Linked DNA regions of Homo sapiens: region 2 is linked to region 1. Evidence: fine-mapped expression QTL. Tissue or cell type: whole blood. Region 1 holds a variant in brackets; the other region holds the start of a gene. All regions are shown on one strand. Distances are between the middles of the regions.

The links. PIP is the estimated chance that this variant, and not a neighbour inherited with it, causes the effect.
Region 2: it holds the start of KIAA0825, and the variant in region 1 is fine-mapped to the expression of KIAA0825 in whole blood (INTERVAL, PIP above 0.99). The same link has a PIP of 0.9 or more in nasal epithelium.

The regions. Positions count from the first base shown.
Region 1 is chr5:94,394,944-94,397,628 of GRCh38, reverse strand. It overlaps KIAA0825, which reads left to right. Exons shown (of 21, transcript NM_001145678.3): 17 at 1,120-1,528. Among named protein-coding and RNA genes, the nearest start is that of KIAA0825, 220 kb to the left of the region's middle. The variant T/C (reference allele first, on the strand shown) is at 1,349.
Region 2 is chr5:94,617,285-94,619,969 of GRCh38, reverse strand. It overlaps KIAA0825, which reads left to right and starts at 1,366. Exons shown (of 21, transcript NM_001145678.3): 1 at 1,366-1,470. SLF1 (SMC5/6 complex localization factor 1) reads right to left here and starts at 1,301. Exons shown (of 21, transcript NM_032290.4): 1 at 1,205-1,301. RefSeq lists enhancers at 580-689, 1,080-1,259, 1,570-1,749, 1,488-2,352.

The DNA.
Region 1 (2,685 bases):
AACAAAGGATCATCCAACCCAAAGTTGAGAAACCCTGATACAGAGAAGAAGAATTAATACATTTTTCTTGGAAAATATGTCTAATCTAGTGACTCCTCTGCAATCCATGACAACTTGAGAATCATTTAAAAATTAATTGGAACAGTCTTTATAAGTTTGTAAAAACTAGGTCCAACACATATTTGAATAATCTTCTAAGGCTGTTGCATTAAATAAGATCATAAATGTGAAATAGCACCAAACAAGGAAGAACATGTGGAATCATCAGCCAAAAGGCTAAGGACTTCTTAGCAAAAACCTACATCTAAGCGATGTTAATAGAAAGTGGAAATAGCATAGGACACAAAGAAGCAAAGAGGAGAGATGGAGGTAAGCAAGAACCAATTTACTGACTCATTCATCCAACCAATATTTATTGACAACTATTATATAAGAGGTAATAAGTGCTAGGGATACGGGAATGCCTTCTCAGAGCTTATAGTTTAGAAGAGGGTGACAGTGTGCAGGAAAAGGACATAATTATTAGATGATGGGGAGTGCTATAATAAAGGCAACAAAATGGGGATCCCCAAAAGAGAGGGTCTTGGGGCTGTGATGGAAGGGTATAAATGGACTGAGATGAGATGATGAGATGAGATAAGATGGTGAGGCAAGGCTCTCTGAGGAGGTCACATTTGGGTTGAGAACTGAAAGGAGAGAAACCAGTCCTGAGGAGAGCTGAAATGATTCTGTCATGGATTCCAAGGGAGGAGGAGAAGGGCTTAAGGGGGAGTCAGAAGTACCAAAGCCTACAAAGCTGCCCAGCTGGGCACCTTTGCATTTGTTAATGAGGAGGCCACCTGGGTCCTGGACAGCTGCAGTCTTGAAAGATAAGAATATAAATTATGAGTCTAAATTTTCTAATCATTTATGAGAGAAAAAAAAAAACAGATTTTGATTTGGGGGAATTTTAGGTAGTACTGCGAGAGACCCCGGTTAGAGTTCTGTTGGAATATGTCAGGCACTTGATCTTCTTGCCAATTTTCTCCACAAAAATTAGACATCCTTATACAACACAAAACCATGCAGTGATTGAACGCAAATGCTAATATTAATCATACCTTTTCTTTTCTTCCCCAGGCTTCACAAGGCTTACTGCTCAGGCAGTATCTATTGTAATCAGCAAGTTACCTACGGTGATTGCATGTTTGCCTCCCCCAGTTAAATACTTCTTTTTTCTGTCTGAGAGAAAAATGTCAAAAAAATTTGTTGAATTGAAGAAAGCTGGCCTGCTTGTCTGGAACTTGATTGTAATTATATGTCGGATATTTGAGGACGGAAACACTGTGGAACTTTTAACAGGTGCCTC[T/C]CTTGACAGATGGAGTAAAGAAAAATTGGGTTTAATTTGTATGTGTTTGAAAAGCATCATGGGAGACCAGACAAGTATCCATAATCAAATGATCCAAAAGGTCATACAGAGCATTGAGCAGCAGAAGCCCAACTGGATTGAACGTCAATTGTTGAAAGCAAGGAAACTGAGCACTGAATGGTAAAGTGATGTTTTTCTCTTATTGGATTTCATCAAATGCTTTCACAATAACAAAATCACCAATAAATGACAATATATTGTCAGATGGGCAGCAGTAGTATTTTGCTAAATTCATGGCAGCTTTGATGAATATAAAAAAAGATAAGTATCCCATTAAAAATTGGATTGTTGCACATTTCTTGTCTTCTTAAAATGTGAACCCCATTGACACACTGGAACATTATACTTGTTTAGTCACCATCTTAAGGTTTCTGATTAAAAGGGTGGTAGTTAAACCCAGGAGAATTTAGTTTCACCCCTTTTCAGTGTGCAAACAGGTATCTAGTGGATAGCCTGGAGCATTTTGTAAATGGATTGGGCATGGAGATTAAATTAAGAAGGAATTAACGGATATAAAAGGCTTTTTATTGCTTTCTGTGTACCTGATTGTCAAAAAGGTACACATTTTTCATCTGGTAATGTAAGAATCCCAGAGGGCAACTAGGGCATATCACACTCCAGCTATAAACACACCCAGCTGTTTCTGTATGAAAATGTCAGCCTTCTCATGGGTTTGTCACTAAGAGCTAAGTGATTTGTGGTACTGCAAAGATTTTTAAGGGTCCCTGATGAGTTGAAATATGTACATAGAGTCCTCCTGTCTTTAAATTAGTCTTCAGGTATAGAATTGCATGGTATTGATAAAGGAATTCCAGCTCACATGGTCTACAGATCACTGTCAGCCCATTTTAAAAACACCGACACATGCTGTCCCTCATTCTTTAAAAATATATTCATGTTGCTAGCAGATACTAGTATAACTTTCTGCCCAAAATGACTAAAAGTCACTTGAAATATGGTTACTCTTACTAGTACATGGTAGTGATAAAGAGATCAGGCTTTGGAGTCAGATGGGCGAGTACAAATCCCTTGTAAATGGGTCATCTTGTGCAAGTTATTGAATCGCTCAAAGCCTCAGTTTCAATGATGATACCACACTGACAGAATTGTTTTGAAAAATTAAATAACATTCATGGAGTTCTTAGCATCAAGCTTGGAACTGATAGGCATTATTATGTATAAACTCTATTAAAATATATTGCATTCACTGGTTAGTATTAAGGTAACTAATAATGTTTACTTGTCTATGTTAATCTATAAGACTTCATATTAATCCA
Region 2 (2,685 bases), 220 kb before region 1:
GAGCCGGAGGTTGCAGTGAGCCGATAGGCACTGCACTCCAGCCTGGGCAACAGAGCAAGGCTCTGTCAAAGAAAGAAAGAAAGCAAAGGAAGGAAGGAAAGGTAAGAAAAGAAAATAAAGAAATATACTCTTTAATATAAATTCACCTCATACTAGCAACTTAGGTATTGAACACCTGCAATATACGTAATCAAACTTTCCAATAATGAGAACATCTTGCACATCCACAGGTATTTCCAAGAATTGAGGCACAACGGAATAACATAAACCAAAAAGTCCACAAGGTGCATTGTCTGTCACACATACATTGTAAATTCAGTTCAAATGTTCATTCCCAATATTTCAACAACAACAACAAAATTTTTTAATAAAGTCATTCGTCAAAAAAGAGGCTGGCGCCTCCAAAATCAAGCTCCATCTAACTCCTGAGTCAAATAATGATATGAAGTACCCGAGACGGACCAATTTTTTTTTTGTCAATATTTAATCTGAGGCTTTGGAAGTGGAAGAAATCTTAAAATAGCCACTCAGTCTTGTTTCCAGCCTTCAGGCAGCTGAAATATAAACCCCAGGAACACAGACCCTCCCTTCAGCGAAAAGTGTATGTGTGTATGTTTGTGTTTAAAGGCCTATAGCAGTCAGAGATAGGATCACTGCCGTTTTAGCAGTTTAAAAAAAAAAAATTCTACTAGAGAGGAAAGAATGACACAATTTTCTTCGTCACAGGAAAGTGGGCCTGGGGTATCCCAGCCACCTTCGCAGACGCTAAGTTATGGAAAGCAGCCAAAATTCTGGTATCAGGATGAGGCGTCCCCATGGGTTCTATGGAAACGAGAGACGCGGGGGGCCTAGCGCCTTCCAGGCGGCGGGCCGAGCGGCAGAGCTGCGCAAGCAGAAGCGGGGGAAGTGGCTCAGCCCAGTACTGCAGAGGGGCGCTCGGTGGCAGTCCCCGCAGCGGCACGGGCGAAGCGTCGCGGGGTCTGCAGCTGCAGCCCACCAACTCCGGCGCCGAGCGCGAAGTCGGGAGAGCTGGAACGAACTGCAGCTGGAGAAAGCGCGAGAGCCAGACACCGCTGCCGCTCACCCCAGCCGCTTCCTTCCTAGCCTCACAGCCGGGAGGCAGAAACTTCGGAGGTACCGCCCGGCGAAGAAACATCCCCACAGAGACAGAATACACTGTGTCTTCCTAGCTGAGCCCCTTTACCTTCCCGGTGTCTGGGATGCTTCCTTCGGTGGCAGCGGCGGCAGGGGCGACGACTGCCGCTGCAGCACTCAACTGCTTCACGAATCCGGGCTCTGGGAAACAATTTCCCGCCGCGCGCTAGGCAGCCCCGGAAGCGATAGTACCATTTCCGGGTGGTTGTCAGTGACGCTCCGGAGCCGTCGCCAGGGTGGTAATACCTGGTGCAGAGCTTGAGTCTGGCCAGCGGGTCAGGCTCTTGCTAGATCAGCACCGGAGGTGGAAGACTGGTAAGTGATTTTACTGGGTTTTCTCCTGCGCCTGATATTAATGGCTGGCCGGGGCTCTGTGCAGCATTATGGCCAGCCCGAGAAGTGAGTGGGCGAGGGTGGAACCAGAAGGAGTCCCCATCAAACCCCGTGGCGCTTGACACCCAGTGCAGCTGGAGAAGGCCCTGGGATCCCGGCTTACCGTCTTATCCACTCGCAAAATCTGTCTCCGACTTGGAACTCGACCTCGGGTCACCAAGTGTCCCTGGGCGAGGCCGAAGACACCGTGTACCGTGACTCGGCGTTGTGCCGAGTTTCTCTACCAATGATCAACGAGTTTCCTATCTCCCATTGGCAGCGTTTGGCCACTCTTGATTCCTGAGTACTGTTTCCGTAGTTCTGGGGTGCCGTGCCTGGAAGGCAGGAGGTTGGCTGAAGAAGACATCTTTTACAAACATTTAGGAAGTGAGATGGGGAGGTTCCTTCCTGATTTAGAATTAATTGAAGGTTCCTCCCGCCATTTGAATTGGATGAGAAGAACGGTCTTTGTTTTCATGGCTGAGACATAAGAGAACAAGCTTGTAATTTCATGCTTGGGCATTAGATGCATTTTTGGAAAGCAGTGATCAGTAAGTATGTGTGCTTTCAGAAAGGAATGCTTGCGTTCTGCTCCAGGCTTTGTCGATAATGAAGGATTCAGGAGAATTTTGGATGGAGGTCTGAGGTAGCCAGAATAGTTGTAAAGAGAAATTGCTTCCGACAAAGGGATAATGTGAGGAAAGGTGCTCATTTAAGATTTGAAAGATGTGATGTAGTGAACCTTGGCGACTTCTCTTAAGTAATGCAATTTCTTAGGTAACTAGTTTTCACTTGCCACCTTATATTTAGATAATTACCTCCCCACCAACCCCCGTAAAAGGCAGCTGACTGTTATTTTTTCAAAACAGTCAGTTCCCGAAAGAGTTGTAGGTACTATTGCATTTTTTTTATGGGTATGCTCCTCATACCCATAAAAACATTTTCTTTATCGGAGCATACCGATAAAGAAAAATGCAATATGTTCAATTCAAGGCCCCTGTTAACACCAGGCCAGTGTCTTCTTAACCTTTTGAGAGTAATGCAACAAACCATATTTAGGACAGCACATTGATTTTCTGGCCTTGTTGGTTAATAATTCAACAAACTTATAATCGCCCCATTAATCCCAATCTTGACATTTTGTTGAATCTTGTATTT